Linked DNA regions of Homo sapiens. The protein of the gene in region 1 purifies or fractionates together with the protein of each later gene. This does not show direct contact. Each region holds a gene or a part of one and is shown on either strand. Other genes may lie near its edges.

Region 1 (7,461 bases):
TGCTGGGATTAAAGGCACCAGCCACTGTGCTCACCCTGGCATTCTGTATGGGGCTACAGACAGAGTTAGATTTTCTGCTATGTCCACCCCATCAGAGCAAAGATGACACGCACGTTCTCAGCAGTCCCTGTGTCCCCCATGCCCAGGTTGACCCTCTTCAGTCTCTGCACCACTTCCCACCCCCACACCGTCTGTACCCACAACTACCCCTCCCAAGCATCGCCAAATCCTCAGCTCTTGCACACAAACCACACCCACGAGTGGACACACGCAGGCACTGGGGTTTCTGAGAACTACACCCAGCCAGAAACTCGGAGGAGAAACCGTGAGGCCTCTGGCTGCCTCTGTCCATGGCTGGGGAGAGTGTGGTGGTGTGGGCCAGGGCCAGCCTACAGTCCATGTGCCCTGGGAAAGATCACAGGCCCGCCTGAGAGCATGGGCTGGTGGCCCCACCCAGCCATGCTCCAGGCTGGCCTGGGGGGCCCAGAGCTAAAGGTGGTTGCGGGCTGCCCAGGTTCCACAGCCCTTGCAGCTACAGGGCAAGGGTGCTTTACAAAGTTAATCCTAGGAGGGAGTTTGCCGGGTTCTCTTGTCCTTCTTCCCAGACTCTGGTCAACCCAGGGTGGGTTCTGGGGGAAAAGGAGAATTGTCAAAGAAATCACAGGGCAGATAAGTTTGGCCGATGGAGACTCAGCAGCCGTTTCCAGGAACAAGAAAGAGGGGGAAATGGTGATGGAGATAAATAGGGGTGGATGAGGAGGGTTTATTCATTCAGTCCACAGACGTTGAGAGGTGCCAGCCCTGCCCTGCCCAGGCGCTAGTTGTGGGTGCTGGGTGAGGATGGCAGCAGGAAATCCAGGGCTGAGAAGCCTCATGAGGATTCAGAGTGAAGAGGTGGGTGAGGAGGCAAGGCGCGGAGGCTCATGTCTGTAATCTCAGCACTTTGGGAGGCTGAGGCAGGTAGATCACCTGAGGTCAGGAGTTTGAGACCAGCCTAGCCAACATGGTGAAACCCCATCTCTACCAAAAATACAAAAAAGCAGCTGGGCATGGTGGTGGGTGCCTGTAATCTCAGTTACTCGGGAAGCTGAGGCAGGAGAATCGCCTGAACTTAGGAGGCAGAGGTTGCAGTGAACTGAGATCGTGCATTGCACTCCAGCCTGGGCGACAAAGCGAAACTCTGTCTCAAAAGAAAAAAAAAAAGGAGATTCGGGTGAGGATCAGGGTGCCGGGTGGAAACATGGGAGCGAGGGGGCAGTGGGATGGTGAGAGGGAAGGTGCTGGAGGCTGGCTGAGATTCCGGCCTCCAGCCTCACTATTCACCGACACTTAAGGGGCAGCCCCGTCTCCCCCTTCGGGCTCATCAGGAGCTGGGGCGTCCACAGCCCCATCCTCACTGGCCACCAGTGGCTCCTCCTCCCCTTTGAGGCTGGGGCCTGACCCAGACTTCAGCTCCTCCATCGCCAGGGAGCCCTGGCGAGACTTCCGTCTGCCAAAGAAAGTGGTGAGCGTGGGCCGACGGCTAGACCCCTCCCCATCGGGGAACCCAGAGCCCTTGTCGCCCCCGGACCCTCCCACGGTCACTGTCACGGCCCCCTCCTCAGGGACCTGGGCTGGCCCAGCCCAGGCGTCCACCACCCCGTTACGCTTGCCGCCTCTGCTCAGCACGAGGGCCCCAGTCCGCCGCTTCTGCCGCCGGCGCCACAGCAGGAGCAGAGCCACGAGGACTATGACCGCCAGCAGGGCCACAAGCACAGCCACTGGCAGCATGCCTCGTGAGTTCTCATCTGGGTTCCGGAAGGGCACAGTGCTTGCGTTGGTGGAGGTCGTTGGAGACATCATTGTAGATAGTTTTACGCTAGAGACCTGGGGTCCACTGGCCCCGCTGGAGGGCTCCAGAGAGCCAGTTGTCATGGTAACAGGGGGTCCAGTGGTCCCAGTGGAGGTCTCCAGAGAGTCAGTTGCCATGGTAACAGGGGGTCCAGAGGTGCCTTTGGAAGTCTCCAGAGAGACAGTTGCCATGGTAAGAGGGGGTCCAGAGGTGCCTCTGGAGGTCTCCAGAGAGCTAGCTGCCGTGGTAACAGGGGCTCCACTGGTCCTACTGGAGGTTTCTGGAGAGTTCGTTGTTATGGTTCCACCTGTCACGGTGTGGGATCCTAGAGAGTTTGCTGTTATGGGAACAGCAGGATGACTGGTTGCATGAGGGGTTTCCTGGGGCACTGATGACATCTTGATGGAAACTTCCTGGTAGGTTGTTGGCTCAGGTAAAGGGGAACCAGTGCTGGCACCAATGGAAGTCCAAAGAGGGGATCCCTCATTGATGGAAGTTGAGGGAGGTAGGGCTGAGGTCTGGTCCCCAGTGCTGTCGGCCTTAGGGTCACTTGTTATTGAAGTGGTGTACATCTTTGAGCTCAGGGGCTCGCTAGTAGAGACCAAAGGCTCTCCGGAGGTGGGTGTCTGCACTGCTGTTGTGCTCCCCAGAGCGTCTGGGCTTACCACCAGCACCCCAAGGAGAAGGAGAAGCGTGGCCATTTCCAGGCAAACAGGCAGGAGCAAGAGCTGGGACCTGCAGGTGGGCAGCCGGAGAAGCAGAACACGCGGGAGTTGCCGGAGGACCTGGCCGGGCCTCCCCTCTGCCCACTTCCCTGCCAACGGCCAGGCCCAACCTGCGGTTTAACGGTTTTTTCCATGCTGGCTTTTACTGTTATCAGAAATGACAGAGGAACAGATGCTGGCAGCTCCCCCATCAGCCCCATCCTGAGGCTCCCTCCAGCCTCAGCAGCTTAGATTCCAGCAGTGACCAGCCCCTCCTGGCCTTCCCTGACCCTGTGCAGCCCAATGGCTCCCAATCTCTTCCCATCATAACCTGTCAGAGTCTTTTCAAGCCACAGGCACATTCCCAGGCCCACTGAGGCCCCTACCCCACCAAGTCTCACCCTCTTACCGGCTCGGCTGATAAGGACGCAGCACTGGGGCCAGGTCACTCCACCACCTCCCGAGGCTGGGGCAAGACTGGGAAGGACAGGGCCCCAAGGGGAAAGGAAGTGGGCCCTGGCTCCACCCACCCCACCCACCCCTCCATCCTGCCCCACCCGCCTGCTCCCACAGCTGCTGGGCGAAGACAGCACCATCACCTGCTCCTTCAGGGGCCAGCGGGGTGCCTGGGGGTCTGGGGCTCACCTGAGGGAGGCAGGGAAGCGTGGGATCTGGAATCAGGATTCCTGGCTCTTGGCTGAGGAATGGGATGGAAGTGGTGATGCTAGGGAGGGCTGGGCTCAGAGGTGGGTGGTGGGAATGTGAGCCTGAGAACTCAAGGGTGCAGAGGAGGAGGTGGGAGGGGAGGGTGGTTTCCTTTGCATTTGTGGTCCCCAAGCTGTTAGGCCAGGAGCTGAGTGGCGCCATTTCCTGCCCTCAGAGCTCCCAGGAAGTAGCAGGGCAAGAGGAAGCCCCCGAGTCTGGCTGGGGGCCGTGAAAACCTTTGCAGGCTGGTGAGCTCTTGACTCTGTCCGGGGAGCTGGGGGTCACCACAGTGGCCCCCAGTCACAGAGACGTGGCTAAACCAAGGTGGTTCCTACACACTGCATATGCTAGGATCTTATTTCTGCAAACTAGTAAAGATGTGGGAATCTTTTTTTTTTTTTTTAAGGCGGAGTTTAGTGCAATGGCATGATCTTGGCTCGGCTCAGCACAATGTCTGCCTCCTAGGTTCAAGCAATTCTCCTGCCTCGGCCTCCTGAGTAGCTGGGATTACAGGCTTGCACCACTGTGCCCGGCTAATTTTGTATTTTTCGTAGAGACGAGGTTTCTCCATGTTGGTCAGGCTGGTCTCGAACTCCTGACCTCAGGTGGTCCATCCGCCTCAGCCTCCCCAAGCGCTAGGATTACAGGTGTGAGCCACCGCGCCTGGCCAGATATGGGAATCTATATGGAAAACCGTCTGGAAAGATATCTACTAAGGGATTCACCTAATTGTCTTTGGATAGGTGAGAGTAGGAGGTGGGGGTATTTTCTTCTTTGAATGGTTCCCATTTCCTGACTTTCCTCTAATTAGCAAGCTTTGACTCTCGGTTTGTGTATGTTTTTGGTTTTTGTTCTTGAAAAACGAAAATCAGTCCCGGGTGTGGTGATACATTATGCTGGCAGTCCAGGCCAAAGTGGGAGGACCTCCTGAGCCCAAGAGTTTGAAACCAGCCTGGGCAACGTAGCAAAACTCCTATCACTAAAAAAATAAATAATTTTTTAAAATCAAAACTGATTTGTATATTTTAAGAGCAACATGTGCACAATAGAAGATTCTAACAGGCCCGTGGGACTGTGCCATTTCTACAAGCTGATGAGTTTGTCTGACCCAAAGACATGAGACTCCTGGGTGAGAGCCACAGGAATTAATTGCTCACACCAAGCAACAGCAGCGTGATGTTTGCATCAGTTCCCCTTACCCCAAGTCCCACGGGGGCAACATGGAAGGGCCCAGACTGACACCATGCACACAGTGGGCCTGCACCGCAGCCATAGAGCTCTGAGCTTGAGAGATTCCCCTCCTCTAGGGGCCCTGGTAAGCCCAGGTTCCCACAGGGAGACGTGTCTTCATCCCTCGGGTGTGCTCACTGCAAACACAGCACTGAAAAATGGCTTGAGTACAAAGTATTCAGAGGCTGAGCGTGGTGGTTCACGCCTGTAATCCCAGGACTTTGGGAGGCTAAGGCAGGCTGATCACTTGAGGTCAGGAGTTCGAGACCAGCCTGGCCAACATGCTCTCTTTTCTGCGCACAGTGGCTCAGAAAGGTAACGGGGTGCCCATTCTGCAGGGGGGATGAGGGACACAGGAGCAAAGGAGTATAGACTAGAGGGCTGCAGAATCAGGCCCTACAGACTTCCTGTCCTACCACCACCATCTTCCAGCTGCATGACCTTGAACAAGCACATAACTTCTCCAATGCCCTAGGACCGCCACCTTCTTCATGAAGTGACTGCAAGAATTAAATGAGATAATGTTAAGTGCACAGAAAAGCAGCTACCAGCACGGGACTCTGGGTTCCTGTCCTACCTCTTGCACTTGGGCAAGTGCCTTAATCTCCTTATCCCTCTGTTGCTTTGTATAAATGGCGATAATTATGGTAATACCACATAGTTTGTTTTGATGATTAAGAGTTAATACATATAAACGGCTGGGCACGGTGGCCCATGCCTGTAAGCCCAGCACTTTGGAAGGCCGAGGCAGGCAGATCACCTGAGGTCAGGAGTTCGAGACCAGCTTGGCCAACATGGTGAAACCCCGTCTCTACTAAAAACACAAAAAATTAGCTGGGCATGGTGGCGGGCGCCTACAATCCCAGCTACTCGGGAGGCTGAGGCACGAGAATCGCTTCAACCCAGGAGGTGGAGGTTGCAGTGAGCAGAGATTGTGCCACTGCACTCCAGCCTGGGCAACAGAGTGAGACTCCAACTCAAAAAAAAAAAAAAAAAACTGCTCAGGACCTGGCATTCTTGATACACCCAATATATCAGACAAAAAGGCTCCATACCCATCACCTCCAGACAAACATTCCTGACAGTGTCTGTGTTTACACAAGCATGTATTCATCCATTTTAGTGTTTTGCACTTTTCCTTTGTTACTGAACAATGCTTTGGGAACACACACACATATATAACAGTTGCATAATATTCCATGGCATACACTATAATTTTTTTTTTTTTTGAGACGGAGTCTTGCTCTGTCACCCAGGCTGGAGCGTAGTGTCTCGATCTCAGCTCACTGCAACCTCCACCTCCCAGGTTCAAGCGATTCTCCTGTCTCAGCCTCACAAGTAGCTGGGACTACAGGCACATGCCACTATGCCCAGCTAATTTCTGTATTTTTAATAGAGACAGGGTTTCACCGCGTTAGCCAGGATGGTCTTGATCTCCTGATCTTGTGATCTGCCAGCCTCAGCATCCCAAAGTGCCGGGATTACATGAGTGAGCCACCGCGCCCGGCCAGAAATACACTATATTTTATTTATTTATTTATTTTTAATTAATTTATTTTTTTGAGATGGAGTCTCACAGTGTCGCCCAGGCTGGAGTGCAGTGGCGCGATTTCTGCTCACTGCAAGCTCCGCCTCCCGGGTTCAAGCCATTCTCCTGCCTCAGCCTCCCGAGTAGCTGGGACTACAGGCGCCCGCCACGAAGCCCGGCTAACTTTTTTGTATTTTTAGTAGAGACAGGGTTTCACCGTGGTCTCGATCTCCTGACCTCATGATCCACCTGCCTCGGCCTCCCAAAGTGCTGGGATTACAGGCGTGAGCCACCGCGCCCGGCAGAAATACACTATATTTTAAATATTCCCTACGGATGAACATTAGATTGTTTTCCAACATTTCATTATTACTAACTGCTGCAGTAAATACCCTAGTTTATTTCACTATAATTATTATGTATTTCTGTTTTAACAAGCCAGAAAAAAGAAGAAAAGAAAGAGGTAGAGTGAAAGAGGAGAGAAGGAGGGAAGGAAGGAAGGACGGATGGAAGGAAGGAAGGAAGGAAGGGAGGGAGGGGAAAGAAAAGAAACCAGGCTCACGCAGTGGTTCACTCCTGTAATCCCAGTGCTTTGAGTCTGGGACTGTACCCTACCTCCTGCCTCCAGAGGCGGGAGGATCACTTGAGGCCAGGAGTTCAAGGCTTGCCTGGCCACATAGTGAGACCCTCATCTCTACCAAAAAAGAAAAAGAAAAGAACCCATTCCACTGTCAGACATCTAGGAGGCTATTTCAATCTTCTGCTATTGCAAATAGAAGAGCAAGAATAATTGGCTGCAAAGTAATTGGAACTTACTTTTTTTTTTTTTTGAGACAATCTAGCTCTCTTGCCCAGGCTGGAGTGCAGTGGCATGATCTTGGCTCACTGCAACCTCTGCCTCCTGGGTTCAAGCAATTCTCCTGCCTCAACCTCCCGAGTAGCTACCACACCTAGCTAATATTTTGCTATGTTGCCTAGCTGGTCTCGAACCCTTGGACTCAAGCAATCCACCCACCTTGGCCTCCCAAAGTGCTGGGATTACAGGAGTGAGTCACTGCACCCAGCCTACAGTTTTTTAACTGTAGAAAATAGAAATGTTGTAAGAATGTACAAGATTCTCAACCTTTAAAAAAACACTAAGGCAAAATTCATTTTTGACAAAGTTATCATTTCAACCAAATTGTTACTGCTGTCGGCAAAGCTGTCTGTTCCCCAAGCCAGATGTTGGGCCCCAACTCAGGAGAGCTGCGAGGATGTGGATGGGTCCAAACTCCAGCCTGGTGCACTCAAGAAATGGGGTCTGACCAAGACAGACTATAGGCTCGGGGTGGAGGGAAAGATAATGAAAATATGAACAAGAGGTGATTGTTGCCTGCAAATCATCACAGAAGAGCAATACTTAGGCTGGGCGTGGTGACTCACTCCTGTAATCCCAGCACTTCGGGAGCCCGAGACAGGAGGAT
Region 2 (7,025 bases), on another chromosome or scaffold:
AATTTGATTAGATCCACCTTCAAAGGACAGGATCACATCAGAACTGCTAAAGGAATTGTGGGCCGGGCATGGTGGCTCACACCTGTAATCCCAGCACTTTGGAAGGCCGAGTTGGGTAGACCACCTGAGGTCAGGAGTTCGAGACCAGCCTGGCCAACACGGCAAAACCCCATCTCTACTAAAACCACAAAAAAAAAATTAGCCAGGCGTGGTGGTGCACACCTGTAATCCCAGTTACTCGGGAGCCTGCAGCAGGGGAATTGTTTGAACTCGGGAGGCGGAGGTTGCAGTGAGCCAAGATCCAGCCACTGCACTCCAGCCTGGACAACAGAGGGAGACTCCATTTCAAAAAAAAAAAAAAAAAAAATGGACTTATGCCCAGTGATTAGAGACAAGGCCCTTCACTTTCTCCGTGCCAGCACCAACATTCCAAGGGGCCCTCCATGTCTGCCTGAAGACCATGCCACCCAGAGACAAGGTTATAAGGCAAGAGCATCTTTCTTGTGTAAGGTGGGAAAGGGAAGCTGTGCCAAGGAAGGAAAGAAAGTAGGGCTGGCTTCCCCGGCATTCTCAGGCACAGCAGTTATAGGGAAGAGAACGTATGGAAGCTGAGGACCTAGAAACTAATTTTCTCAACACTCTCTGTGCACCTGTGTATGGCTCAGAAAGGACAGTGTTTTTGACGGAACAGTGGCTCCAGTCTAACAGCTACTGACTCAGATGGCCTCTGGCAGGCTCCACCTCCAGGCTAGTTTTTCCAGATCGCAGGGCTATAAAAACTGAAGAAAGAAACCAAACCCTGATCAACTAAAAGGGAAACCCACATATTACACGCCTTTTGATATGGGTAATACATCTGCAATACACAGCACCATGACATCTTCATGCCTGAAAAATGGAATCTGAACTAATCAAGACTCCAGGTCTAACTCTCAGCTTACAGGAAATACAGGGGACTGAGGAACAAGTTAGGCAGCACCACGAGGAAGTAATCAGCCAACATTCTAGAGACAAATGACCCAGTTTCTCCAACAAATTACTAGCATGAAAAAAAAAATGAACTGTTAAAAAATTAAAGAGACTTAAAAGATATAACAAGCAAATGCAATATAGAAACCTTGTTTGGACCCCAATTATAACAAAACAATATTAGATGACACCTTTAGAAAGATGAAGAAAATCTGAATATGGACTGGATGTTAGATCATAAAAAGGAATTATTAATTTGGTAGGTATAATGGCCATGTGATTATGTTTATTTTTAAAAAGTCATTCAGTTAGACATGTGTGTTGAATTTACAGGTGGAATTACATGTCATCTGGGATTAGCTTTTATAAAATATTCTAACCTCCCAAGAAGTTTTGGGGAGGACAGGTGAACTGAGATTAGCAAAATGTCAATAATGATTGAAGTTGGGAGATGGGTGTCTGGGATGCATTACAGGCTTCTATCCACAATTTTTACATGTTTAACAATGTCTATAATATGCTGGGTTCCATAACTCACGCCTGTAATCCCAGCACTTTTGGAGGCCTAGGCAGGTGGATCACTTGAGCCCAGGAGTTCAAGACCAGCCTGGGCAACATGGTGAAACCCCATCTCTGCAAAAACTCAAAAATCAGCCAGGCACGTTGGCACATGCCTGTAGTCCCAGCTACTTGGGAGGCTGAGTTGGGAGGATCACCTGAGTCCAGAGAAGTTGAAGCTGCAGTGAACCATGACTGTGCCACTGTACTCTAGCCTGGGTGACAGGGTAAGGCTCTGTCTCAAAAAAAAAAAAAAAAAAAAAAAAAAGGCCTATAAAAAAGATCTTTTAAGGGAGAAGGGGAGGAAAAAGTATATTTAGTTAGAGCCAACTATGTATTAGGCTAGGCCTGTGCTAGGCCCTTACCAAATAAGATCTTATTTCCCTAGTCCTGAGGCAGCTGTCAAATAAACCTCGATTGCTGTCTAAAGAGAAATGGGCATTTGATAAGCTGGGAAATAAATATGGCAGGTGATAAGAGGGAGGTGTTAGTGCCTGAGGAACACAGAGATGCATCTAGGTCGCAAGGGGAGGGACTGAAGACAGCCCTTGGCAGACACATGTCAGAATCAGTATGCCTCAATTTCCATTTCTCCTACTACATGCTACTTACCCCTGCAGCAAAGCCAAGACTTCCATCTAAGATCCGCCTCTGAAAATCAAAACAAGATGTTTCAGTTTCCAAGAGACAATAAGATGATGTTTCCTGGGACAAGAAGAAACCATAAGGCCCAAAAGAGCCACGCAAATAAAGACTGGCCGACTCCTGAGCTCGTGAGCTACTCAGTTTATACCATGGGCCAAGAACCACGGGGAAAGTCTTTGGTTAACTTTCCACCCACCCCATAGCCAATCAGAAGCGTTCTTTCAAGTGGTGCTTGGCTTGTCTTGGCCCTTGTGTTGTCTCTTACTCAGCTTTCCCTGTGAATTACAACTGTAAACCTTTAGTAAGTAGCCTGTCTACAAGTTGGGAATTACTGAGCGTTGGTGAGGAGCAGAGGAGCAGGTGGAACAATCAAAACCCTCACACAGGCCGGGCACAGTGCTCACATGTGTAATCCCAGCACTGTGGGAGGCTGAGGCGGGCAGATCACCTGAGGTCAGGAGTTCAAGACCAGCCTAGCCAACATGATGAAACCCCATCTCTACTAAAAATACAAAAAAAAATAGGCTGGGTGCAAGGGTTCATGCCTATAATCCCAGCACTTTGCGAGGCCAAGGCAGGTGGATCACCTGAGGTCAGGAATCTGAGGTCAGCCTGGCTAACGTGGTGAAACTCCATCTCTACTAAAAATACAAAAATTAGTCAAGCACGGTAATGCATGCCTGTAATCGCAGCTACTTGGCTGAGACAGGAGAATCCCTTGAACTCGGGAGGCAGACATTGCAGTGAGCCAAGATCATGCCATTGCACTCTAGCCTAGGCAACAAGAGCAAAACTCCGCCTCAAAAAAAAAAAAAAAAAAAACCCTCACACAATGGCGGTGCAAACGGGTACCACCATTTTGGCAAACTATTTGGCAGCACCGATGAGAGGTGAACACTATGTGTGCCACTCCTGAGTAATCCCATGACAGGAATGCACTTGTATTCAACAAACCCATGAAGAAAAATGTTCGGCAGTGCTAAGAGCCCAAAACTAGAAACTACCCAAACTCTCACCAACAGTAGGATGGATATGTTAACTAGGATACACTCATACAACAGGTACCATAATGGCGATGGGAACGCACACACATACTACAGTTACATCTTACAAACAGACAGGGACATTAAAGAAACTGGAAAACAAGTAGGGTAAAATCAGCCAGATGCAGAACAGTACGTACTATATGATTACTCCATCTAAATAAAGCACAGAAACAGGGAAAATATCCGTGCTGTTAGAGATCACATGGGAGATGACCCTTGGAGTAAAGGTTGGGGATGGTGAGATTGGAAGGGAGACTGAAGGCTCCTGATTGGAAGGGGCTGTGAGGTGAGGAGCTGGTACTGTTTTGTTTCTTGATCTGGGCTCTAGTTTCATGAGCACTTGTGGAAAGTTATCAAGCTGCATACTTATATTAGGTTGGTGCAAACCTAATAAAATGCACCAGCCTAATAAAATGTGCATTTTTCCATAAGCATCTTCTATTTCAATACAGATTTTTTTTTTTTTGCTATCTATCCATAGATGAATGGATAAACAAAATGTGGTATGTACATACAATGGAATAGTCTTCAGCCTTAAAAACAAAAGAAATTCTGGCACATGTTATAACGTGGATGAGCTCTATGGACATTCTTTGAAGTGAAAGAAGCCATGTGGTCTACAGAACTTTTCACCTTACAAAATTAAAACTCAGCTGGGCATGATGGTGCACACCTGTAATCCCAGCAGTCTGGGAGGCCGAGGCAGGCAGATCACTTGAGGTCAGGAGCTCAAAACCTGCCTGAGCAACATAGTGAAACCCCATCTCCACTACAAATACAAAAATTAGCTGGGCATGGTGGTGCACACCCGTAGTCTCAGCTACTTGGGAGGCTGAGGTGGGACGATCACTTGAACCCAGGAGGTGGAGGTTGCAGTGAGCTGAGATCATGCCACTGAACCCCAGCCTGGGTGACAGGGCAAGACTCTAGCTCAAAAAAAATAAAAAATAAATAAATAAAACAGCCTGGCCGGATGGGGTTACCAGCGAAACCCCGTCTCTACTAAAACTACAAAAAAAATTAGCTGAGCGTGGTGGTGTATGCATGTAATCCCAGCTACTCGGGAGGCTGAGGCAGAAGAACCTTTTGAACCTGGGAAGCAGAGGTTGCAGTGAACCAAGATCACGCCACTGCACTCCAGCCTGGGTGACAGAGCAAGACTCTGTCTAAAGAAAAAAAAAACAAACAAAAACAAAAAACCCTGAAACTCTGTACTCATTCAAGAATAACTTATTTCTGCCCTCCTCTGTGGCCCCTGGCAATCACCATTCTACAATGTGTCTCTGTGAATTTGACTTATCTTGGCATCTTATATACCTAGGTTCCAGATAAACCATGTTTCTGGATTGTGTGTTTTCTGATTTCCAGTCTCCAACCCATCAGCTCCCGGGGGCAGTGCAGCGCAGCAAGGGAGGTCGGGATTTTATTGTTGAAATCAAGGCCTGCTGTACTGGTCTCTAACACAAGAGTGCCTGACTTGTGAACTTCCTAAAGGTGTTTTCATTTCCAGATCTCCCTCACAACATGTTGAACTAGATCTTAAGTCACTTATTCATTTGCCGTTTCTACAATGTCTCAGGCTACCGAGGTGATCGATGCAGGGATTGTGCATTCATCAAGATACCCATGGATGGCTCCAGGGCTGCGGACTGAGGGTGATCTGGGTTGGAGAAAAGAATGCAATTTCAGGTATATGAGGTGAGTGTGGGTTGTGCAGAGGTGTGGGGAGGGCATATGGGTATGGGTATGTGTGCAAGTGTGGGTATGTGGGACTATAGGTAGAGCGTGTAGAAGGGGTGTAAGGATGGGGTTGTGGGAGGAGGGAGAGATAGGCTGTGGGGCCATGACAGTGAGTGAGGGCACTGGGAGTAGGATACAAGGAAGATGTAGGAGAAAGAAGTAAGAGTTTGCAGGGGGCCAGGGACATGGGTCTGTCTATATTCATCCCAAGGGGAAAGGAAACAACCTGGAGATGGGTTGAAAAAAAAGGGAACAGATGCCCCTTCTTCTCCCAAGGTCTTTCCAACCATCCCACCCAACTCAAGTCCACAGGGGAGGACAGTTACACCTGAAATCTAATGTTCTTCGGTCACGCATAGTACCACTTGCTCCAGGCCTGAAAGAAATTACATGGCAGGCCAGGCACGGTGGCTCACACCTGCAATCCCAGCACTGTGGGAGGCCGAGGTGGGTGGATCATCTGAGGTCAGGAGTTTGAGACCAGTGGTGAAATCCCACCTCTACTAAAAATACAAAAATTAGCCAGGCGTGGTGGCACATGCCTGTAATCCCAGCTACTCTGGAGGCTGAGGCAGGAGAATCACTTGAACCCGGGAGGTGGAGGTTGCAGAGAGCTGAGATCCTGCCACTGCACGCCAGGCTGGGCAACAGAGCAAGATTCTGTCTCAAAAAAAAAAAGAAAAAAGAAAAAAGAAAAGAAATTACATGGCAGGTAGAAATTAGGCAGCGGGCTAACGAAGCCTCAATAACTGGGCTTCTCACTTCCTATTCCCTTCAAGTCAGGCTGTCAAGGGTCAAGAGGGGAGATGATGGTGCATGAAGGTGTCTACAGCAAGCAGACATCTGTTCTCCCGGCCTGGCAGGGAGAAGGTGAGAAAATAAGAAGACAGCGAACAAACCCCAGTACACAATGCCTGGGGGTGTGGCCAGGGGCACTGAAAAGTCTACAAACCTGCTCCATGGAGTGGGACAGTGCCCCTTTACCAACGGGCTCCCCACCAACATCCAGAACCAAAGCAAGGCAACTCACCTGTCCACTAGAGAATACGAACACGAGAGCTGCCCCAGCTGCTGTCATCCCCCAGGTGAAGAAGGTCCCCAGCAAGGCCTGGAACACAGAGCTGTGGCCTTGGAGCATGCTGGATACAGCTGTGCAAGAGGAGCGAGAGGGTCAGCCACCGGTGGTCCGTTTCAGTGACAGGCGCATATTCTGACGGGTCCTAACACCCTGTGTGGGAGCTGGCCTCCCTCCAGGTTGACCGTATGCACCCTTCCACCACGCCATCTGTGTCCCTCAGCCACCCAGCACACAGGTCAGGCTTCTCTATCCAGGTCCCCCAGGAACTGGAAATCGTCTTAATCTGAAAGAAGGCACAGGGAGATGCCAGGGGAATCCACAAAAAAGGCTGCAACATTGAAAAGTGGTTTCAAAGAGAAGCACAAAGAATGTGGTTTATTCCAGAAGAAGGGGGCATAGGAGGGTCTGATGCAGCCTCCCCCACATAATCTGCCTCTTCTACCGTCTCTTGCCCACCATCCGCACTCAGCCTCCACCAAAGACAGGTGACTAGCTCAGGTGATGTCAACACGCTTCCAATCTTAATCCCCATCACATCTGCAACAGCGCACCTGCCCAGCCAAAGGGTAAACTCCACCAACCAACTTTTGATACCCACCAACCCCCGACTCTCCAATCCCGTTCTCCATCATGCCTGCACGAGCACCCAACTCCAGCTCAACTGAATTATTTATGGCACCTTCCACAAGCCCCAGACAATCCTGCCTCCAAGTCCCTGTTCATGCAGTTCCCTCCTGGAATACCTTCCTTGCACATTTCCAGCCATCAGAACCCGGAGCACCCTCTGCAGCCCACATAATGCCAACCTCACGACCAAGGCTTTTCTGGCCTTCCCCAGCCCTGTCCTAGCATGCAGCTTTGGTCCTCTCTCAGTGTGGCTTTGCCTCCATCTTTTACAGCCTTAGTTGCTTGAGGACGGGGACGGTGCTTTTTCACATTTGGCACCCCTGTAAAATAGGGCTTTGTAACCCCTGAAAAATATGTGCTGG
Region 3 (7,025 bases), on another chromosome or scaffold:
TTTCTGTCTTACCATATTTTATGTAATTTAAATCAAAGAGAAAACATTTTCTTGTGCTTTATTTTACATTGAACATTTAACAACTTCATTAACGTTGCACATCATTTGCTTTTTTTTGCTCCTTGTGTTTATATGCCAGTCTTCAATAAGTGACCGATGTTGGGACTCTGATGTCTTGCCAAGAGTGATTACTAAGCCTTACAGGTCATTAAAACTGTTTATTGCTAATCACTAGAAAATTAATTTTTAAATTGATCTGCTTAGTGTTTTTCTTAGTGCATTCTTAGTGCTGAGTAAGCCACATCAAAACCTATTAATTTTGTGTCCTTTATCCAAGTGAGGGATAAATTCATCATCTTTCCCTAAACCTGCTTCATCAGTATTCTCAATCTCAGTAAATGATGTAATCATTATCCTATTTGGATAATGTAGAAGAAATGGAGAAGCCAATTACTGAATCTTTCCTGCCCCAGTATTTTCCCATTGCAGTCAACTCCCAACCCTTATTCCTGACATTTTCTGGGATTCCATCCATGCCAATCAAGCCATTATTGTTTCTCATCTGGAGAACTGCCACATTCTTTTACTTGAATTCCCTGCCTCTATGCTTGCTCTTCCCAAGCCTAGACTTTAAAGCTGTTTTTGCAAAGTACGCACTCATTTCACTCTCATGCTTCGGTCTTTTCAGTTGCCTTCCTTAGGATAAGGTCCAGAAAAACAAACAAACAAACACAGCTTGGGTACTACATACATCACCTGGGTGATGGGACCATCCATATTCCCAAACCTCAGCATCATGCATGTAACAACCCCCAACATGTACCTTCTGAATCCAAAATATAAATAAATAAAATAGGGGAAAAAAGAATGAAATAAATGAAAAATTCTCAAAAAAATAAAGTACAGCTTATGGACCCAGTAGCGCTATCCTTATTCCTTGTACTCTGCGTTTCAGTCATGTGAAGTTTGCGTCACTTCTTCAACTGAACCAGGCTGTCTTGTCTCCAGGCCCTTGCACAGTATGTTTCCTCCACCTCAGACACTTCTTTGCCCCTTCATGTTTCTGTGTAAACATCATTTTTCTTAAGATACCTTCCCTGACCCTGCAAACTAAGTCTCCTTGCTTTGTGAAGTTCCTAGCCCATAGTGCTACATTAGTACCACTTTATTGTAATTACCCCACTTGGAATCTTCTTTCCTTTTAGAGTATAAAGTTTATGAAGGTAGGGATAACATCTTATACATCTGTTTTCTCAACTCCTAACATAGTGCCTGAAATTTGTAAGTACTTAAATAAACATTTGCCAAACCATTGTTTTAATTGTTCACTGTCTTTTCACTTGTTTGGTTGAAGAACTAAGATTTTGAGTTTCCAAACTATTTAGATTTTTGAGAATCCAAACGGTTGATCATAAGAATTAGACTTACATGGTTTTAGTGTTCTCAGCTAGGGAGCTAGGTTAATCCTGAGACATTTTCAGAACATCATTATTGTTGATGCGTGATGCAGCGGACCTTAACGTTCATACTATAAAAATCGCAGTCTTTTTTTGTTCTGATTATTCAAGCAAACCAAAATGATAAAGTATCAACTGGTAGGTTTCTGCGTTGTTGCTTTTATGAGATAGAGCCAAAAAGTTTTTTTACTTCTTGTCCTGTGTGTGTTGATTATATTATATAATATTTGTTTATTTTTTGCTGTTTCCCCTATTAGAATATAAAAGCTCTAACGAACACAGAGACTTCGTTCCTTTCCTTGTTTTATCCTCAGCACCTTGAACAGTGGCTGGCAGAGTAATAAATATTTATTGAATGGAGGAATGATTGGAATCCCCTGGACAGTAAAGTTGTTGATTCAGTGCTTTTACTTTTCCTATTTAGTTCTGAAAATCCAGAATGGCTTGATGTTTACATGCACATTTTACAACTGCTTACTACAGTGGATGATGGAATTCAAGCAATTGGTAAGGTGGTTTATCGGGATGCACTACAGTTACTCATTTAATTGTTTGCTGATTTTAAAGTACTGCTTTATTTGTCCTCTTTATTAAGTACATTGTCCTGACACTGGAAAAGACATTTGGAATTTACTTTTTGACCTGGTCTGCCATGAATTCTGCCAGTCTGATGATCCACCCATCATTCTTCAAGAACAGAAAACAGTGCTAGCCTCTGTTTTTTCAGTGTTGTCTGCCATCTATGCCTCACAGACTGAGCAAGAGTATCTAAAGATAGAAAAAGGCAAGTACAGTTTCCCAGGCTCATACTGTTTTTCATTTCATTTATTTCTCCCTTTTAAAAAATGCTTTCATTTCCCTAATTATAAAAACATTACATGCTAAACTTCAAAAATTTATTTTATTATCATATTTATTTATTTTATTTTTTATTGATTTTTATTTTTTGGAAACAGAGTCTTGCTGTGTTGCACAGGCTGGAGTGCAGTGGTACAATCTTGGCTCAGTGTAACCTCTGCCTCCTGGGTTCAAGTGATTCTCGTGCCTCAGCCTCCCAAGTACCTGGGATTACAGGCGCACACCACTATGCCCAGCTAATTTTTGTATTTTTTCAGTAGAGACGGGTTTTTACCGTGTTGGCCAGGCTGGGCTCGAACTCCCGACCTCAGGTGATCCACCCACCTCGGCCTCCCAAAGTGCTGGGATTACAGGCGTGAGCCACCCCACCTGGCCTGTTTACTTATTTTAAAGCCAGAGTCTTATTTTGTTGCCCAGGCTGTAGTGCAGTGGCAGGATCATAGCTCACTGCAACCTTGAATTCCTGGGCTCAGGTGATTGTCTCACCTCAGCCTCCTGAGTAGCTGGGACTACAGGCACATGACGCCACACCTGGCTAGTTTTTAAATATTTATAGAGACAGGGTCTCACAATCTTGCCCAGGCTTGTCACAAACTCCTGGGCTCAAATGACCTTCCTGCCTTGCCTTCCAGAGTGCTGGGATTACAGGCATGAGCCACTGCACCCTGCCGAAAAATTTATAAAAAATATCAAGGAAACATGATGTTTGTAATCTTACCATCCCACACATGCACATATATTTAATTCTGCTTTTTAGCCAACATTTCATTTAGAAATATAAAATGAATATTTTCCTATATAAACACATATTCTTTCACAGAATTGTTTTTATGACCACAATTAAATTCATGATTCATTTAGAATTTATTCTCGTGTCACATGTGAAGTGTGGCTTTAATTTTTTTTCCCCCTTTGATAACTTTGGTTCTAGTGGTATCAGTTTTTTCCCAGAGGGCTACCCAGTTATCTCAACATCATTTAGTGAATAATCCAGCTTACCCACACTGATTTGAAATTTCATCATTATTTTTAAAATTCCCCTATATATTCTGTTCAGTTCCATTGCTGTATTCATATATTAGTAGCCATAGTGTTTTTAAATATTAAGGTTTTATGTTTTAATACCTAATAAGGCAAATTCCTCTTCATTCTAAGTTTTCAGAATGTTTTTAACTATTTTTATCACTAACTTTGAGTTCCAAAAACAAAAAATTTCTGACATTTTTGTTGACATCGTGTTAACTTGATAGGATATGTTATGCCCTTTTATTTGTTCAGGTCTTTTTTGTGTCCCTCAGTAATGGTTTCTTCATATGGATCTTGGATATTTCTTATTAGTTTCATTCCTAGATAATTGTATCTTTTGGGTTTACTATTGTCTGTGACATATTTTCTTCCACTGATTATTATTGTTGGAATATATGAAGGCTATTGATTTTGGTATATTAACTTTGTATCCTGTAACCTTACCAAATTCTTAATATTTTTAGTAGTCGTTCCAGTAATAATCTTTGGGCTTTATCTGATAGTGCTTTGGCTTAAGTTAGATATATTTTATCACTTGTCTATCTCTGGTTTATTCTTCTTGTCTTTCTGGGTTGCCTAGAGTCTCTGGTGTAAAATAATAGTGATGGTAGAAAACATCCTTACCTTCTTCCTGATTTTAGTAGGAATAATCCTAGAGTTCCATTGTTAAGCATTATTGGGTATAAGATATATGTTTTACAGCCAGGTGCTGTGGCTCACACCTATAATCCCAGCACTTTGGGAGGCTGAGGCGGGCAGATTACCTGAGGTCAGGAGTTCAAAGTCAGTCTGGCTAACATGGTGAAACCCTGTCTCTGCTAAAAATACAAAAATTAGCCAGGCTTGGTGACGCATGCCTGTAATCTCAGTTACTCAGAAGGCTGAGGCAGGAGAGTTGCTCGAACCTGGGAGGCAGAGGCTGCAGTGAGCTGAAATCACGCCATTGTACTCCAGCCTGGGCAGCAGAGCAATACTCCGCACCCCCCCTCCAAAAACAGATATATGTCTTACCATTTAAGGAAATATTAATCTGTTTCTATTTTATTAAGAGTTTTTAATAAAAAAGGAATGTTGAATATTTTTAAGATCTTCATTTGTAGATACGTTACCTCATTGAGAAGGTGGCATTGAGTACAGTCCTTAGGGACAGAATGGAGGGAGTCATGTGCATACTTGGGGAGAAGAACATTCCAGACAGAGGGAATGGAAAGTGTAAAAGCCTTCAACCAGAAGTATGCCTGGTGTCTTTGAGGAGGAACAGTGAGATCCCATATGGCTGGGGTGGATTTAGCAAAGTAGCACATGGAGCCAGAGAGGTAGAGTATGGAGGGCCTGATGTTGCCTTTTCCTCTGAATGAGGTGGGGAACCATGGTGGGTTTTAAGCAGAAGTTGCCTACGCATGAGCTGGCTTTAATAGGCTGCTGTTTTGATGAGAAATATGGGGAGTCATGGGTACAAAAGGGACATGAGTTAGGAGGCTTTTAGAGATTCTTCATAATTGACTCATAGCAAGAAATGTTATAACTTGGACCAAGATGGTAACAGTGGTAGTGGTAGAAAAATCCTGTGAGCTAATTTTTTTGTACTTTTTGTAAAGACACGGTTTCACCATATTGCTCAGGCTGGTCTCGAACTCCTGGGCTCAAGCTACCCGCCCATCTTGGCCTCTCAAACTGCTCAGATTACAAGCGTGAGCTACCACCCCTGACCTCCTAGGGTATTTTAATTGCTGATGCTTCATTGCTTTAGTTCTCAACTCAATGTTACCTTGTCAGAGAGCTAGCCCTGCTAGGCTGCTATATTATATTCCTCTTTTATTTCCTTCATAGAACTTAACCAAAACCTGAAATAGTCTGTTTTATTTACTTATTTGAAAGTATAAAAATGTAAGCCTCTTATGGGCTGACATCTTGCTGATGTTACCAGTGTATCTGTAATACCCAAAATAATAATGTCTAGCACTAATTCAATACATATGAATGAAAAACCAAACTTAACTGGCCAATTCCATGCTTCTTGATTTGTTTATACAGTAGATCTTCCTCTAATTGACAGCCTCATTCGGGTCTTACAAAATATGGAACAGTGTCAGAAAAAACCAGAGAACTCGGCAGAGTCTAACACAGAGGAAACTAAAAGGACTGATTTAACCCAAGATGATTTCCACTTGAAAATCTTAAAGGATATTTTATGTGAATTTCTTTCTAATATTTTTCAGGCATTAACAAAGGTAGGAAAGAAGTATTGATGATGTCATAAGCAAAAGAAAGTGTGGGTTGCTTAACGCTTCAAACTTTATTTTTTTTTAAATATGAAAGTAATATATAATTTGGGAAAATAAAGTAAAATCTTAATATCACCATGAGTTTATAATCTTAAAAACAACTAGCTGATGTGGTTTGGTATATTTACGTGTGACAGACATATGCCTATGTTTGCATGCATGTGTTTTTATAAATGCATTTTTCATATACTTTAACCCAGCATATGCAATTTTTATAGACTACTGTTTTCCCTTAACACTGTATTATAAACATTTTTCTTGATTCTAGATGAAAGACTTTTTTACTGAGAGCCAGTTTAAACCTAATTTACCAAATAATCAGTTTTCAAAATTTACTGCAAACTTCTTTTAAGGAACATTCTCCCTGAATATGTTCAATGGTTATTAATATTCTTCTTTTGACCATGTTTTTTCTATCCATATATTTGGAAAGAAATGTATTATGAATATGTTATGAATATATTGTATTATGAATATAAAATGTTATAAATATAGCTGTGAAGAATATATTTATTCATACCCACTTAATTTTTTAAAGAGTATTCCTTAAGAAGTTTCTCTTGGCCAGGCGCCTATAATCCCAGCACTTGGGAGGCTGAGGCAGGTGGATCACTTGAGCCCAGGAGTTTGAGACCAGTTTGGGCAACATGGCAAAACCTCATCTCTACAAAAAATACAAAAATTAGCTGGGCATGGTGGCACACGCCTGTGATCCTAGCTACTTGGGAGGCAAAGATGGAAGGATTGCTTGAGCCCAGGAGGTCGAGGCTGCAGTGAGCCCAGACTGTGCCACTACACTCCAACCTGAGCGACAGAGTGAGACCCTATCTCAAAAAACAAAATGAAACAAAAAGTTTCTCTTATTCTGGTGATTTTTTTTTTATTAGTTGTCTTGCTTCCCTTTTCCATATTTGTATTTTCCAGATTTGGGGTTATTACCTTAGCAGGTTTTATATAATTTAAATTACTGGATTCAACATTATAAATGTGAAGATGGCTAAGTCATGATGGCCATATTTTGTCAAAATGCTATTTATATGTGAAAATGTTGGTTTTACTTGACGCTTATTATTGGGTATTATAATTTTTATGTCAAAGTTCAGGTAATAAATTGTGTCTTACTTTGATTTGCATTTTTAAATTAATGAGATTGAAATATTTGGATGTCGTATGTTAATTTGTTTCCTACCTTTTAATAATTTATCCATTTTGATTATTTGTATGAATTTCTTGGGTAATAATGTATCTTTTCCATATTTATCGCATGTATTTTTTTCCCATTCTTTGCTGTTGTTTCTGTTTTTTGGAGCAAGGGACATCGATATTTCTTAACTTTTAAGTGGTGGGAACATCAAAGAAAGGTGGGCTGAGAATACACGAGTGCTATGTCATGCAAATT
Region 4 (7,025 bases), on another chromosome or scaffold:
TTTAGGTGAGGGATACTTTCAGGACTGGGTTGGGTCAGCCAGTCAGAAAGTAGCCTTCCTAGGAGCTTTACATTGGACAGCTGCTGCCCCACCGATACATCTTGGCACACAAGAGTTAGGCCACTGTATCTGTCCTGTCCCACACACTTGCTCCAGATGATCTTTACCACATGACACATGAACATACACTGTGTACACCTGGAGCCCACCTGACATGGAGCTTTGGACTGCTCCACAAGTCTCCAGCATGCCTTTGGAAGCCCTTCTTTATTGGGAAATAAATACAGAGTTAAACAGGTGGGCCGGCCAACATCTGTGGCTTTGGAGGCCAAAAGGAAGGAGTCTGACTTGCTCAGAACTCAGATCTCCATGAGCTGGTCATTCCCCACGATCACCTCATTCACTCGTTTAGCTACAAAAGAAAAGGAAAAAAGTTTTCTGAGAACTGGCAGCAAGATGACATTTCAAACCCAACTGCTTTTTTTTTTTGGAGACCGAGTTTCGCTCTTGTCACCCAGGCTGGAGTGCAGTGGCACAATCTCGGCTTACTGCAACCTCCATCTCCCAGGTTCATGCGATTCTCCTGCCTCAGCCTCCTGAGTAGCTGGGATTACAGGCGCCCGCCACCACGCCTGGCTAACTTTTGTATTTTTAGTAGAGATGGGGTTTCACCGTGTTGGCCAGGCTGGTCTCGAACTCCTAACCTCAGGTGATCTGCCAGCCTCAGCCTCCCAAAGTGCTGGGATTACAGGTATGAGCCACCACGCCCAGCCAAACCCAACTGCTTCTAATTCTGTGTTCACAAAAATTTATTTCTCTACTATTGTGGCTGTGATCTTGAGAAGCTCTTGGAAATAGGGATATGAGAGAGAGAGCACCTTCCTATGCAGGAGGATGGGACCAACTGTCTATATACCTGGCTGTGGTGAGGCTTTAAATAGGAGAACTGAAACTGGGTCTTAAAGGGTGAATAGTTTCTACAGGCAGTGATGGAAGGGATTCTAGGCTGTTAGAACAGCAAGGGCAAAGACAGTGAGATGGGAGAAAGGGGACCATGAAATACTGTGGTGTGGCCAGAGAATAGGAAATGAGGGGATAAGGGTAAGAAATGAGGCTAAAAGGATAAACGGAGATAAGAAAGGGCAATACCTCATATATAATATGGAAATAATGACACCTACTGCATAGGGTTGTTGTGAGAATTCAATGAGTTAAAGGTAAGTGAATGCTCAATAAGTTGTGGCTATTATTATTTCTATAAAGGTCAAACCCATAAGGCCCTCCATGACATCTTTGCCTACCTCTCCAGCTTCATTTCCCACTATTCTCCATTTTGCCAGTAAGCCATACTGTTTTAATCCCTTTTTTTTTTTTTGAGATGGAGTCTTGCTTTGTCACCCAGGCTGGAGTGCAGTGGCGCAATCTTGGCTCACTGCAACCTCCGCCTCCTGGGTTCAAGTGATTCTCCCGCCTCAGCCTCCCCAGTAGCTGGGACTACAGGCATATGACGCCACACATGGCTAATTTTTTTTTTTTTTTTTTTTGTATTTTTAGTAGAGATGGGGTTTCACCATGTTGGCCAGGCTGGTCTGGAACTCCTGGGCTCAAGTGATCTGCCCTGCCTTGGCCTCCCAAAGTGCTGGATTACAGGCGTGAGCCACCGCACTTGGCCCTGTTTTATACCTTTGAACTTTGGCACAACCCTCTGCCTAGAATGCTTCCCCCTCCATTTTTTCCTGTTGCACTCTTACTACCCTATGTGCCCTAACGTAGCACCTCTAATATGCGATGCCTTCCCTTTTGCACTGTCCATTTCCTGCTTTGTGAAACCACTGTACCTAATATATATCTCTATTCCTACATCATTATACCACTCTCCTCTACTTCACTATAAGAACATTGAGGGCGCTGGGCGCGGTGGCTCATGCCTCTAATCCCAGCAGTTTGGGAGGCCAAAGCAGGTGGATCACCTGAGGTCGGGAGTTCAAGACCAGCCTGGCCAACATGATGGAACCCCATCTCTACTAAAAATACAAAATTAGCCAGGCATGGTGGCGCATGCCTGTAATCCCAGCTACTCGGGAGGCTGAGGCAGCAGAATTGCTTGAACCCAAGAGGTGGAGGTTGCAGTGAGCCGAGATCGCAGCATTACACTCCAGCCTGGGCAACAAGAGTGAAACTCTGTCTCAAAAAAAAAAAAAAAAACAAACCAAGAACATTGAGAGGAGAGATGGAACAGTGTAGTTATGATTATATCCCCAGTGTCTAGCATAGCTACTGCCACATGATGATTTTAGAGGTTTTGGGTAATGACTAAGATAGGATATGGTCATATAACTGGAGAGCTAAAGCTGAATGCAGATGAAGGTTGGTAGAGAAGTTCAGGGAATCATGAAGCCGGAGAGCTGGACAGTTTACTGATGAATATGTTTAAGTTGTCCAAGATGTTATGGACAAGTGAGGGAGAGGAGAGGAAGACTGTGAACCACAGGCTAAAGCTCTTAATAAATGTAGGGAAGTACCCTGGAAGCTGATCAATGATGCGGTGAAAGGTAAGAAGAGCTATAGAAAACTTTCAAGGAAAAAGAACTATAGAAAGGAGGCAGTGAGCCAATAGCCTGGAAGGGGCAGGGGGAGCCAGGGAACAGAGACTATATCTGGCATGTTGGGGTTGATGTATTTTCATGGTGATTCAGTAAGTTGGAGGAAACCTGTAGAGGCACAACAAGCAGAACTAGGCCGGGCGTGGTGGCTCGCTCCTGCAATCCAGCACTTCGGGAGGCCAAGGTGGGTGGATTGCCCCAGCCCAGGAGTTTGAGACCAGCCTGGGCAATAGTTAGACACCATCTCTACAAAAAATAAAAATATTAGCTGGATGTGGTGGCATATGCCTGTGGTCTCAGCTACTCAGGGGCCAGGGAGGGAGGTCGCTTGAGCCCGGGAGGTCAAGGCTACAGTGAGCTGTGACTGTGCCACCTACACTTCAGCCTGGGTGACAGAGTAAGACCCTGTCTCAAAAAAACAAAAAACTAAGCAAAGCTAGTGATGCTTGGTCAGGGATGGGAGTAGGGTCCAGTAAATACACTGGAAAATCTTTGGGCTGGAATCAGGTTGGGAAAGATCCCAAGGGGAAAAATACAAGGGAGGATGATAAGTTGGGAAAATAGCAATGGGATAGAAGGGAAAAACATCACAAATAAAAGGTGCACTGTTGGGAAACTGGGAAAGCTTCCTGCTGGCCAGGAGGATTTGACCTGTGTCAAGTATACATCAACAGCCTGACCTATACCAGGTCTACTTTCATGGTCAAAGAACTGATCACTCTGGCCATAGGGAAGAGATCCAAGTTCTGTCACTGACTGTAAGAAGAGACTCAGATGAAGCATGCTTTTAGCAGTTAGTGTTTTTTTTTTTTGTTTTTTTTTTTTCTGAATGGAGTCTTGCTCTGTTGCCCAGGCTGGAGTGCAGTGGTATGATCTCTGCTCACTGCAACCTCCGCCTCCCAGGTTCAAGTGATTCTCCTGCCTCAGCCTCCCAAGTAGCTGGGATTACAGGTGTGTGCCATCACACACAGCTAATTTTTGTATTTTTAGTAGAGATGAGGTTTCACCATGTTGGCTGGGCTGGTCTCGAACTCTTGACCTCAAGTGATCCACTCGCCTTGGTCTCCCAAAGTGCTGGGATTACAGGCGTGAGCTACAGCCTCTGTACCCAGCCATTTTTTAGGTTTTGACTGTTAGCTGTAGCCATTCTACTGCTTGAGAAGGTCAAATTTGGCTGCCAGTATTTTTGCCAGAGATAACCAATGAGAGTATTGGGATGGGGTGAGAAAAGTCAGAGTTGTTATAAAATGGCTTGTTTTCGTGTTGGTGCTAGAAGAGGGTAGGGAGGCCTACACTGAGTTACGAGCCATACTTTTGGGGAAAAAGACTGCTATGGATGTGGTGACTCTGGAGCATGAAAATGATTAGAATTTGGAGAGGAGACTGCATTATGTCTTTTTTTTTTTTTTTGAGATGGAGTTTCGCTCTTGTTGCCCAAGATGGAGTGTGATGGCGTGATCTCAGCTCACCACAACCTCTGCCTTCCAGGTTCAGGCAATTCTTCTGCCTCAGCCTTCCAAGTAGCTGGGATTACAGGCATGCACTACCACGCCCGGCTAATTTTTTGTATTTTTAGTAGAGATGGGGTTTCTCCATGTTGGTCAGGCTGGTCTCGAACTCTTGACCACAGGGATCCACCCGCCTCAGCCTCCCAAAGTGCTGGGATTACAGGCATGAGCCACCGCATCCGGCTGAGACTGCATTATTTCTTAGGATGAATGTTTTTTCCTGAAACCCCTTCATGTGAGGAAGACTGACGGAAGACTTTGCCATCTATTGAGCTCTTTGCTGGTAAGGATGTGAGTTGTTGGTGTTTGCCTAGGTCACCTATAGTAACAAGTCTTGAGTGCTGCACTGATGGTTAGGAGTTTGCTTTCACCATACGGCTCAGTCTCAAAAAAAAAAAAAAAAGAAGAAGTAATAGTGGAAAAAGGCAACTGGCCAGGGAGTTCCTGTGGCAGGAGGGCACTGACCACTGTGCTGGATGCACTGGTCCTTCCAGCAGAGGACAGAGAGAAGGAAGTGGTGGGGTTGTCCAGTTTAGAGCCCAGACAAGATGACTTCCCTGGCCAGCCCTCCTTCAGCAGGACCATTAAAGGGTCTCCTTGCTAAAAGGTGGACACATAGTGTTAATTAAAGCCAGAAAGCCCAGGAGTTTATGAAGCCCATCTCATGATGATTGCAACCATCGCACAGAGGCCTTTCTTGGAACCCTAACTTTATACCCTGAAATCCCCCAAAATATGTTTCATGGATCCAACATTCATTCATTCACTCTTTTCCCCTTCTGAGCATTTACCATAAATCAGGACCTGTTCTGAGAGCTAGGGATGCATATAGTTATGAGACAATCGACCTTGAGGATCTTTTTTTTTTTTTTGAGATGGAGTCTTGCTCTGTCACCCAGACTGGAGTGTAGTGGTGCAGTCTCAGCTCACTGCAGCCTCCGCCTCCTGGGTTCCAGCAATTCTCCTGCCTCAACCTCCCAGGTAGCTGGGATTACAGGCATGCACTACCACACTTGGCTATTTTTTGTATTTTTAGTAGAGACGGGGTTTCACCATGTTGGTCAGGCTGGTTTCGAACTCCTGACCTCAGGTGATCCGCCCACTTCGGCCTCCCAAAGTGCTAGGATTACAGGTGTGAGCCATCATGCCCAGCTGACCTTGAGGATCTTAGTAGGGAAGGCTGATTCACGGATAATTGCCATGGCTTGTGAAACATACTTTAATAAAGGTGTGGCAAAGCTCAAGGACACAGTGGAAGGAATGTGTAGTTCTGCTATGGGGAGTCATGGGAAGAGGCAGAGAAGGTTCTACAAAGGAGAAAACACTTGGTCGGAGTCTTCAAGAGAGGAAATCTAGAGAGAGCACATGTAAAAGCATGGAGAGGTATAATGGCACGGTATGTATGAGGAATTCTAAGTCTTTTGGTACACTCAAGGAGTAGTGCATATACCTGTCATTTAATTATATGTAATTCTCACAATTCTCCAAGGTAGCTATTATTGTCCCAATTGTCTAATTAAGAAAATCTGGGGCTGGGCGCAGTGGCTCATACCTGTAATCTCAGCACTTTGGGAAAGTGAGGTGGGTGGCTTGCTTGAGGCCAGGAGTTCAAGACCAGCCTGGGTGACATTGCAAAACCCTGTCTCTACTAAAAACACAAAAATTAGCCAAGGGTGGTGGTGTGCCCCTGTAGTCTCAGCTGCCCGGGAGGCTGAGGCACAAGAACCACCTGGATCCAGGAGGAGGAGGCTGCAGTGAGCTGAGATAGCACTACTGTACTCCAGCCTAGGCGACAGAGCAAGACTCTGTCTCAAAAAATTAAAATTAAAAAAAAAAAAAAAAAAAAGGAAAATCTGAGGGCTTAATGATTAAAAATTTCACTTGGTGCACAGCCACTAAGTTGAGTTGAGATGTGAACTGAGGTCTGTTTGATTCTAAAGCCCAAAAGGAAGGCATATGACTTTAAAAAAGGGAAGGGGGAAGAAACTGAAGAAGGAAATGATGTGGCGTCTACAGAGTTGGTGGGGTTAATTCCTTCAGCAACTCCCCTCCCCACCTTATTTTAGGTTTAGGAATAATACCAAAAGCAATCAGTCATTTTAATTTTTATTATTATTTTTAAGACAGGGTCTCCCTCTGTCACCCAGGCTAGAGTGCAGTGGTGCGATCTCAGCTCACTGCAGCCTTGACCTCTCAGGCTCAAGCAATCCTCCTGCCTCAGCCTCTTGAGTAGCTGGGACAACACGTGTGTGCCACTGTGCCTGGCTAATTTTTAATTTTTTTGTAGAGATGGGTTCCTGCTATGTTGTCTAGGCTCAAGCGATCCTCACATTTCAGCCTCCCAAAGTGTTGGGATTATTGGCATGAACCACTGTGCCTAGGCTTCAAGAATCACTGTACAGTATTGGTGCCAACCTGGGCCATTAGATCTATTGATATGTTTTCAAGGTTTTGAGATTAAGGGTGCATACATGTATAAGCTTATCTATAAGATTAATTTCTAGAAATGAAACTGTTAAGTCAAAGTAAAAAAATTTGACAGTGATGCCAGGTGCGGTGGCTTACGCCTGTAATCCCAGCACTTTGGGAGGCTGAGGTGGGCAGTTCTCCTGAGGTCGGGAGTTCGCAACCAGCCTGACCAACATGGAGAAACGCCATCTCTACTAAAAATACAAAAAATTAGCTGGGCGTGGTGGCACATGCCTGTAATTCCAGCGACTCAGGAGACTGAGGCAGAAGAATCGCTTGAACCCGGGAGGCGGAGGTTTCAGTGAGCTGAGATTGCACCATTGCACACCAGCCTGGGCAACAAGAGTGAAACTCCGAAAAAAAAAAAAAAATTGACAGTGATGTCAACTGCTCTCCAAAGATGGCTTTATCAATTTATGTTCTCGCCCGCAGTGTACGTATGTGC

What was found.
Region 2: the proteins of SPN (region 1) and SLC39A11 purify together in Homo sapiens (affinity purification with mass spectrometry; 3 studies listed by BioGRID and IntAct, with this or other methods). This does not show direct contact.
Region 3: the proteins of SPN (region 1) and SAAL1 purify together in Homo sapiens (affinity purification with mass spectrometry; 2 studies listed by BioGRID and IntAct, with this or other methods). This does not show direct contact.
Region 4: the proteins of SPN (region 1) and EIF2B3 purify together in Homo sapiens (affinity purification with mass spectrometry; 3 studies listed by BioGRID and IntAct, with this or other methods). This does not show direct contact.

The regions. Positions count from the first base shown.
Region 1 is NC_000016.10:29,658,800-29,666,260, reverse strand, and holds the start of SPN (leukosialin precursor), read right to left. Parts: upstream 3,015-7,461; 5' UTR 2,945-3,014; intron 2,567-2,944; 5' UTR 2,533-2,566; coding exon 1,330-2,532; 3' UTR 1-1,329. UniProt on the Homo sapiens protein: Predominant cell surface sialoprotein of leukocytes which regulates multiple T-cell functions, including T-cell activation, proliferation, differentiation, trafficking and migration.
Region 2 is NC_000017.11:73,082,669-73,089,693, forward strand, and holds part of SLC39A11 (zinc transporter ZIP11), read right to left. Parts: intron 6,108-7,025; 5' UTR 6,097-6,107; coding exon 5,989-6,096; intron 2,179-5,988; coding exon 2,140-2,178; intron 1-2,139. UniProt on the Homo sapiens protein: Zinc importer that regulates cytosolic zinc concentrations either via zinc influx from the extracellular compartment or efflux from intracellular organelles such as Golgi apparatus. May transport copper ions as well.
Region 3 is NC_000011.10:18,082,082-18,089,106, reverse strand, and holds part of SAAL1 (protein SAAL1), read left to right. Parts: intron 1-1,881; coding exon 1,882-1,964; intron 1,965-2,052; coding exon 2,053-2,241; intron 2,242-5,375; coding exon 5,376-5,572; intron 5,573-7,025. UniProt on the Homo sapiens protein: Plays a role in promoting the proliferation of synovial fibroblasts in response to pro-inflammatory stimuli.
Region 4 is NC_000001.11:44,850,592-44,857,616, forward strand, and holds part of EIF2B3 (translation initiation factor eIF2B subunit gamma), read right to left. Parts: intron 413-7,025; coding exon 360-412; 3' UTR 1-359. UniProt on the Homo sapiens protein: Acts as a component of the translation initiation factor 2B (eIF2B) complex, which catalyzes the exchange of GDP for GTP on the eukaryotic initiation factor 2 (eIF2) complex gamma subunit.